Homo sapiens: one gene and its partner. The protein of the gene in region 2 interacts with the protein of the main gene of each other region in a pairwise test. Each region holds a gene or a part of one and is shown on either strand. Other genes may lie near its edges.

Region 1 (5,283 bases), on a different chromosome or scaffold from region 2:
TCTCAATACACCCACTGTAAAGTTGAAAAATCATTAAGTCGAAAGTAAGTTAGGGATTATCTATACTTTTTAGGGACAGAAGCCAGAAATGATACAAGTTATGAGATTGAGCAACTATGTGGCTAATAAAAAGGCAATCTTTATCATTCCTATTTGAAATCCAGCATTGATTTCTCAAATAGTTGAACAGAATTTAAATATTAGTTTTCTCAGCTAACAAATCACAAGCGAAAAGAAGCTTCACTTCCTTTTTAACGAAGACAAAAGAAGCCAGTTAGAAACTTACTACATTGTGTTAGATTTTTTAAAAAGCCACAGTTATACCAAATGTATTTACTTTGTGAAGTATATCCTTCGGAATAAATGCATTCCTGGAAAGGAGAAACAGAAGTCAGTCCTTAATTAGCTAGTTGAGGTACTCATAAAGAACAAGAATAAGCCAACACTTGAAATGCAGAAAACTCAGACTGATTTTTCAATTAATGGACTAATAATCATCTAGGGTTAATGAAGGAAGTTACTGAATTCTGTTGAGTTGCCCAAATAAAAATGAACAATATCCCCCAAATAAGTATTTCCAAAAGAAAATCACCAGTCATCAACATTTATAAGAAAACATTTTGAAGCCTTTATTTACAAAAGCTTTAAAAACAAATAATACCCTCTGTTTTGCAAATAATGTTTTGTTTAAAAAGGACCACCCAGTTACAGCACTGTAATATCATGAATAAAGAATGTACAAGGGAGACAAACCAATGTGACTAACATTTGGAGATTTGCTAATATTACTGATTGAAGTGTAGGTAACACACATTATAACTTGTAGTCCATCATTTCGGGGTAGAGTTAATGATTACCGTAAAGTCTTCCTACACATGCTCTGGTCTGGTCACATATTCTGCATGGCTAAGTATTTCACAGTCTCTTTTGTCAATATATATAAAATAGATTGCAAAGATATACACAAAAAAATAAGCATTACACTCCTCAGGTAATTTTATCAGCTATATATATATATATGAGAATATATATATATTTTGTTGTTTTGTACCAAATCTCTCCATTATTTACCTTTGTAGCAACTATGAAAGCACAATTTTTGTCTTCTAATTTAATTTGGTACAAAATATACCTAAAGACTTATCTTTGGATTTTTAATAAAATTGATTTGTGTAACCAACAAATCAAGAGCATCATAAGAATGGCTACAAAATTTAAAAAAAAAAAAAGGGTAAATGGTGATGGAATAAAAATAAGCAGATCAAGGGAAGTGTGCTATCATAAAATAACTGTAGCTTCAACATCTTGAGTACCAGTTTCCTGGCAGATAGTAAACATCCAATCACAAGGGATTTTTCCTGAAGGGTGTAAAGCTGGTTTGAAAATTCTTCAGTCACAGAGCAGCCTACACATGCCAATTAGAAACTGACAGACACTAGATGTGCTTGGAAGATTAAACACTACGTACAGAAACAGCAGTTACTAAGCTCCTCAGTAGTTTCTTGTCTTTTTTAAGTTTCGCTGAATCGACAGTTTGCACAACGTGCTATATTCTGTGGGTCAAAACCAAGTAAATACTGTGTAAAGTTGGCAGATTTTTCCAGCTAAGATCAAGAAAAAACAAATTTTCTGATAAAACAGGTTTAGAGTCAGAAACACTCTCTAAAGTGCAAAACTGATGGTCCACGATCTCAAATAGCTAAAACTCCTGCAGAATGGAAGGGAGAGACGTGAAACAGGGAAATAAATTACAGTCAGTGCTAGTTAATTTAGGAAAAGGGAAAAATAAACCAAACTCAAGTCGGTAAAGTTTATCAAAATATTCAATGATGTAGCTTTCCCCACTCTCTGTCACACACGCTTGCTAACAAGTATATTAAATTAAGGCCAAATTTAACCTGAATGCGTTTTTTTTTTTCTTTTTATTAAGATCTGAGATAGGAACGGTCATACTTAGTACTGAAAGGCAGACAATAAAATGGGCCATGAAAGGGGGGGGAAAGGTACTGTCTATTGTTCGAGGGATTCAACCAGAGATAAAACCTATATACAAGCATGTGTGTAGCTCGAAATAAAAATAAAAGGACTATTTCATGTCATGACTGCTTGTTGGCTTCCTCTTCATATGCATTCCCTGTGCCATTCTGTACATAGGATGAACCAGAACCAAGGCCATACAAATGACCACAATATTTGGCATCATCAATATGATCTTCAAAGAACATCTAAAAAGGAATTTTGAAGAAAAAAAAAAGATAATTTTAACCAAAAGGAACCACTTGTAATTTATATTTCAGCAATGTAAGTACTGACTGTTCACTGACAATAATGATGGCTCTTTTCTATGGTGTTCCTTTGAGGCTACGCATTTCAGTTCAATGAGTAAGACTAATGTCCTCAAAAGTACAGAGCTCAGAAACCAAAGAAAGAGACTACAAAAAAAGTGTATAAATGCATGTCTTTTCCATTTAGACCATTTTTATAAGAATTTTTCATCATGGAAAAATAACTATTCCATTAATTTAACAATACTCAAGAATGAAGAAAGCCAATGATGGTGGGGGAAAAAAAGTTTAGGTTCATAAACTGTCTTAAATCTGTATGCAAGGCTGAGCTGGCTATAAATGATCAAACCATAAAGTCATGGACAGTAAAATCCAAACATTCACACTCTATTACTGTCCTTGAAGAAGCCAAGAAAAATAAAGATAAATTAGTGCCAGAAATCCACCTTTAGTTAAATAAACCATTAAGACATTTTTAAAATGCAAAGCTAAAAAATCCAAAAGGTTGTTTCAATTATCTAATGAAACAATTGGAAGGAGTCCAAAACAAAATATTTACGTGTCATGAATGGATAGTCCAAATCACTTCTGAATCAACAACACTACTTAGCAAAACAGCTTTAATGCTTTCTATTATCAATACATTGCTACAAAAAGTTTTAAATTCTCAGTCTCAATTTAATGTCTAAGAGAAAATATACTCAAATCCACAGCGAATTTTTCCAAAAGGGAAAACTTATAGTCAAGAAAAACCTCACTTGTTTTTTGCACAACCAATTTTCCTGTTTACCTATAGCTAGGTGTATCTGTGCACATCACTTAATTACTTAGGAGTAGATAATGGGTTCATTTAGTTTCATTCTTCCATCCCTAACACTTTATACTCAAGGAACTGATCTCTGCCTTTTGCCGTTTAAGGAGGGTTTTCCTAATATGGTTTCTGATGCAACTACTACGTTGGATTTATTTGATCCCTTCGGAATTCAACCCCCCTTTTAAGACTCAATGCAGTAAAAGAGCCTGAGTTCTTCTCTATAAAATCTTCAAAGCACTGAAGAATGACATGAGCAAATAATATATTTATCACCAGTTTAAACCTTAAAAGGGGTCATGCTAGAATAAACCTAATATAAAGATTCCTTGCCTTGTAGGAGGAGCACCAATGGGAGTCAGAAAAGAACTCTGGAGTTCTCCCACTAGTAATGTGTTTAATCATGGAAGTTATTAGCCTGTTTTCTCACCTGAGAAATAATATGGTTGGACCTACATGACTTCTCAGGTAGTTTATGTTTTAAAATTGTTGGTTCTATGATGAACATGTTCTCCCAGTTCCTTCTGAACTACATTTCAAGATGACTTATTTTTGAATACTTTTAAGTGTGGTGGATGTGACTCATATGGTATCTCTAATTATATCTTTACTTAGTAGGTACTTGTTGCCCAAAATCTTTGGCCACAAGATTTTTAATGTTCTCAACCTAACAACCAACTGAGAAAAAGGCAGTGATGTCTTCATACTTCTCTCATTTTGAAAAAGGCCATTCCTGTGAGCAATGAATCAGATCCTGCCTGATGTTGTGGTCCTATCCGTTCCAGCTCTAACTGTTCTGCCACCTCCTGTAATCCACCCTAGAAAAAATAAAAAATTGCTTGTCAAGAAGAAAAATCTTACAAGGCCTAAATTCACAAATTATAAACTTAGACGCTGACCAAAATAAAAATAAACTTTAGTATGTAAAGGTGAATCTTATAAAGATTGGGGGGAAGAAACAGAGAATGTGAATTACTAATGTATTTGTTGAATGCGGAAAAAGTATCATTTAATAGAAAACAAGATCCTAATTGGGAAAATGTATTTTCATCATGTTTTAGGGCATATGACAGGTAAATACTCTCCTAGATATGGGAAGGAAGCAGACCACATATAGGGTAATATTTATCAAGTACACTCATAGTCTATCAATCCAGTAATAATTATAAAACTGAAAAGCTAGTATAACACCATTTTTTTCATATTTTCTTAAACTTCCCACCATCCATTTGTAGTTTTCACTTAATTTTTACAAAACAAAGCCATTATGAATAATCATTAAGAGTATGCTAAATGCTTCACTATGGTTTTCTTAGTTAAGACGAGTATATGCACACAACTCCTTAGAGTGGTCTGCTATAATCCACCTATGTTAATACTCCTAAGATTAAAAAAGAAAGATGAGAGTGGAAAGAGTGGAAAGAAAGAAAGAGAAAGACAGTAACAGAAGGAAAGAAAGTGGGAGGACAGGCAAGGAGAGTAAAGGGAGGGGAGAATAAGTAGAGCGTGAAGGAAAGAAACACCAACAACAAAACAAAAATTCTTCTCTAACTTGTTAAGGCCTCCACCGGCAAAATGGCCCTTCTGTGCATCACAGCTTGAAACAAGGCTTTGCACAGCAGTTGCTTCTGCGCTAAAAATAGCACGAGGATTAGGTATCGTTAGCAGCTGCTTAGGAGAACAGAACTAGAACTGAATAGAACAGCATGGCTGACTATAGGTCAAAAAGCACCTTTGTCGTTAACCTGAATTTTAACACAGCAGCTTACTCAGGACACATTCAGAATATCTGTACTTAGAAACTTCCCAGTAACAACCACATGATGAGCAATAATTTGGTTCCCTGTTCCTGAAAACTATCATTATACAGACATGTCAATTAAAAAAAAAGTCAGATGAAAACATGTAGGCCTCAGCATGCAGTGCTTTCACAGGGTGGGCTGAATTTCTCAAGCAAGGGATACCCTACTGCAAGTTCACTTCCTGGAAGTCCCCTCAAATTACACAGAAGTCTACTGCTACAAACATAAAATAATCTTTCTTGAAAATTTCTCTAGTCATATGCTGACCATATCATGTATTAAAGGTAAACACTGGCCAAAAGAAAGCTTCTCATCTTCAGTTATCTGTTAAGACCAGCGTGACCAACACGGTAAAACCCCGACTCTACTAAAAATACGAAATTTA
Region 2 (4,181 bases):
CTTGAGGAGCTGACTGTCTTGCTGATCTCATCTGTGAAATGTGGACACTGAGGACGGCATGAGAACCCATGGCACGGGGGCACATGCTGGGTGAAACGCCCGACCTGCAGACAGCACTGACCGCTACCCACTTCTTGTGCTTGAACTGAACTGTCAGACGCATTCTACAGTCCGCTCCACAATCCAAATTTAGGAAACTTTTTCTTAGGAATAAAACGTTCCTTGTGCGGCTTCATGTCCAGGAACAGCACTGCCCTCTGAGAGGCACAGGCCCCGCAGAAGACAGGGAGGGCTGCACTTCTTCCCAACTAGAGAGCTGGGGGCCGGGGCAGCCACAGGGCCCCTGCTCACTCTGTGGAAGAGTGGGGCAGAGGGTGAGTCTACCTTTCCCTTTACCACCCTCAGGGCCAGGCCCTGACAGGAGCCCAGGTGACTCGCACACAAGGACGGTTTATTGGCTAGAGAGCAAACGCAGGCAGAAGTAAAAACACCAGATAAAAAGTGAGTGTGGAGAGGTGAAGACTGCGGCCGCTGGACTTGGCTTGAGCTGTGAGGGGTGGGAGGGGAGGATAGCACCGGAAGATGCTGCTCCGGGCCCAACACCAGCCCTGGCCAGGCTCTCCCCTCCCAGGGGCAGCGCCCAGTCCCCAGGGGCTGCCAGAGCCCTGTGTGCCTTGCCGCATTCCCCTGATGCAGCTTTTGGCAACTGAAAGGCAGGGCTCTCGCTGAGTGCACCTGGGGCTTCCTGAGCCCATCTGCGGCGGCCCCACCCTGGCCTAGGTGCTGAGTGCAGCTGCTGCAGACAGCCCCTCCCTCCTTAGTGGAGCCTGGAGGGTGGGGTGCTCGGGGATGCAGGCAGGGGCAGGGGCTCCAGAGCCACAGGTCAGAAGCAGGGCTGGGGGAGGGGTGGAGCCATTCAGCCTCAGGCACCCTCACAGCTAGGTGACTAGGGGCAGGGACAGAATGGGGTGAATTCTCCCCACTCTGAACAACTGTGTCACCAACAAACAAGTTAAGTGGCAGGGCTGCGCCCATCCTCTCCTGCCTAGGCCAGAATGCGGGGGGGATGGGGGCACCTGCCTAGCTGAGCAGTTCCAAGTAGGTGACAGGGACCTTGCCCTTCTTGTTGCCTCTCTCGCCAATGAGCCAGTCAGGGTCCATGCCAGGCAGGCTGTAGACAGTGATGAGCTGCAGAGATGGCAGTAGAGGACGGTCATGGCCTGGCCAAGGGTGGAACTGGCCCCAGGACTAAGTGGGGACAGAGCTGCCACCTCCCCATGGCCCGTGGCATGTGCTACACCTTCAGTGGCTGGCGCTCATCTCACTTGCTCCAGAGACCCAGCAGAGCAAGGATCCTTTCCTCAGAGCTGGATATGCCCTCTTTAACCTGCTGGTCCCCACTTTGCCAACAGGGCCCCTCCAGGCCCCATGTGCCTGATCCCAGTGCCCAGGCTGCTCCTCACCCAGCCCATTCCTGCCCCACCTTGCGGCACCGGGCCCACCTCATCAGCCAGCAGGGCCAGCTCACTGCTGTCGGCTGCCTCGTAGTCATAGAGCACCCGAGCTTTGCGGGTCCCACTGGCAGGGGGGGCCACCTCTTCCAGGCAGAGCGAGGCCTCCCCCGGAGGGGCCAGGCTGGCCACAGAGGGCACCACAGGCATAGTGGCCGCAGCAGTGGTGGGTGAGGTGCTGCTCAGGGGTGGGGAGGCGGGCTCTGTGGTGCCCACGAAGGTGCCGGGAAATCTGGAGAGGAGGGATACATCTTAGCAGGTGGGAGTCCCAGAAGGGACCCCAGAGGCAAACTCCCCTCCCCAGCCCCAGGAGCCCCACTCCAGCCCCGGCTACTCACATGGCACCCTGGGAGCTGGCAGCACAAAGGGAAAAGCAAAGCAAGGGAAGGGTGAGATGGCCCCACCCCCTGGTCCCTGCCATCCTCCCCACCCAGGCATTCCCTAGAAACCCTCAGGGGCTCCAGGGGACTTGGCCGTCAGTAAGGCCAGCCACTCCACCCTCATACACATGAGATGCCCGCACCCAGAGTGGGTTCCAGCAGAGCCCTCCAACCCAGCTTTGTGTCACAGGACTTGCCCAGAGGAGCTCATGCTGCCCACGGACAGGGTATGGGAGCCAGGGGGCCCCAGTGGGTTCAGCAGTGCTGGCCCCGCACCTGCCCAGCTGCTTCTGCAAGTCCAGCATGTGGCGGTAGCACTGTGCGTAGTAGGTTGTCTGAGACTTGACGAACTCGTGGAGGCAGCGCAGGTGGTTCACCTGCGGGGAAGAGGCCAGAGGCTGACTTCTAACCTCCCGCCCTCAGAACAAAAAATTCCGTCCCCATCCCCGTCCTCTACCAGACCTTGCTCCGGCATTCCAGGGTGCCCTGCCCCTGCGCCCACACCCTCCCCGGTGGGACTTGCTCTGTGAGGGCCATTCTGGGGCAGCCCTGCTGACCTTGTGGTTCAGGCACACCTGGTGCCTGCTGAGGGTTAGGTTTAGTGAGGGTGGGCAGTGGGACTCACGTGAGTGCTACTGATTCCCTCCAGCAAGAGACGGGTCACTTCTGCTTGCCGGTCAAACTCTGTCTGGGCCACGCGGAGCTCCTGCTCGGCCTGGGCAGGGCAGGGCAGCCATGAGCACCCACACACCACCCACCAGCTTCCCCGCAGTCTTCTCCTGGAGCCTACCTGGGAGCCGCCTGTCCCTTTCCCCTGGGAACACAGAGAGCCTTCTGGGTCTATGCCTGACTTCACACCTGGAGCCCCAACCCCAGAGAAGCTAGAGCCCCACTCAGGACCCCACAGGCAGCTGCAGTGACAGACCCTTCCTCCATCACCCATCGGAGAAATCCACCCAGCAAGTGCATCCTGAGGGCCTACTGTGTGCTACAGGGTACTGTGGAGAAAACATTTCCCCACAGAGGGGAAACTGAGGCCCAGGGAGGGAAAGCAGTAACCCCTCCCCAGTGGGTGTGGGGCAGAGTGAGAAACAGATCAGACCCCACAGCAGCAAGTGTGCCTGCACCCCGCCACCCCTTCTTCCTCGAGCCCAGCCCCCCAGGCCCCAACTTACCTTGTCCACTTCATCATTCCAGAGCTGTGGAGACGGCAGCAGGAGTGGCCAGCAGGGGAGGGGAGAGGAGGACAGCTGGACCCTAGAGCCTGTGCCCTGCCCCAGCTCCCAGACTCAACTTCTGCCCCCCTGCCCCTCTGCCCCCCCTCCCAAACAGGAGCTGAGACTGGGCCGAGGCCCGGCATGGGAGCTGGGGGCTGGCGGTCCCAGTCCCTCTAACATGCCTCATGCAGGAGGGGAGCAGCCAGCAGGAGTCCTGCTTATATTTCTCCTACAGTGTCAGCCCCATTCTCTGAGTGGGGTCTCAAGAGAGACGGAGTGTCCCCACCCCATCCTGACTGCTGGCTCAGGCTGCTGGGCTGGGCGGCAGAACTGTGTGACCCTGGGCCAGTCACTGAAGCTTTCTGTCCTCTGGCAGAGAAAGGTGGCCTCGTGCTTGAGTCACACTGGGACTCAATGGCAAAAGAAAAACAGGGCAGTCTCCACCCTCTAGGATGTTTCTCCTTCCACTGGGCACAGGGAGGAGGCGGGAAGTGGCATCCAGACCCTGAAGAAGAAAGACGCTGCCCGGCCACGACCAGGAGACCCAGCGCTCCTGCCGCTTCCGGAGATCTGACCCGAGACAACAGCCTGAAATAGGGAATGCGGACCCAGGCCAGTGTGCGTGGCCGGCCCGTGTGGCCCCCATGCTGCTTAGGAAGTCCCCGTCCAGGAGCACTGGAAGTTGCTGTGAGAGCCAACTAGGGTTGGCGGCCTGAGGGACAGTCACCCAGCCACAGAACGACGGCACGGAAGACATGAGGCAGCATGCTCACGAGAGAGGTGAGGGTCTCACCTCCAGGGGCGGGAAGGAGAGAAAGTGGGCAGACAAGGTGTAGCAGTGGTGACAAGCATGAGGGAGAGGTGTGGCCTAGTCCCCAAACTACATAGGAAACACCAGACTTCCCAAGAAAGCCTAAAAACCAACAGACACCATGACATGCGAAGCCTCCACGATCCTGTCCTCCCCACCTCCTGCCCCAACTCCCCTGGGGGCCCTGCCTAAGCCTCAGGACAAGACATGCCCTGCTCCAGGACCTCTGGGCCTTAAGCACAGCCTCAGGCCCTCCCGCCCC

Evidence for each region.
Region 1: the proteins of SH3GLB2 (region 2) and CNOT7 interact in a two-hybrid assay, tested with the Homo sapiens proteins (one large-scale study listed by BioGRID).

Annotation. Positions count from the first base shown.
Region 1 is NC_000008.11:17,228,624-17,233,906, forward strand, and holds part of CNOT7 (CCR4-NOT transcription complex subunit 7), read right to left. Parts: intron 3,915-5,283; coding exon 3,804-3,914; coding exon of another isoform or gene 3,798-3,803; exon of another isoform or gene 2,889-3,797; intron 2,226-2,888; coding exon 2,097-2,225; 3' UTR 1,554-2,096; coding exon of another isoform or gene 1,512-1,553; 3' UTR 1-1,511. UniProt on the Homo sapiens protein: Has 3'-5' poly(A) exoribonuclease activity for synthetic poly(A) RNA substrate. Its function seems to be partially redundant with that of CNOT8.
Region 2 is NC_000009.12:129,007,604-129,011,784, forward strand, and holds part of SH3GLB2 (endophilin-B2), read right to left. Parts: intron 3,163-4,181; coding exon of another isoform or gene 3,091-3,162; coding exon 3,067-3,090; intron 2,607-3,066; coding exon 2,517-2,606; intron 2,269-2,516; coding exon 2,168-2,268; intron 1,865-2,167; coding exon of another isoform or gene 1,850-1,864; intron 1,744-1,849; coding exon 1,503-1,743; intron 1,189-1,502; coding exon 1,081-1,188; coding exon of another isoform or gene 939-1,080; 3' UTR 1-938.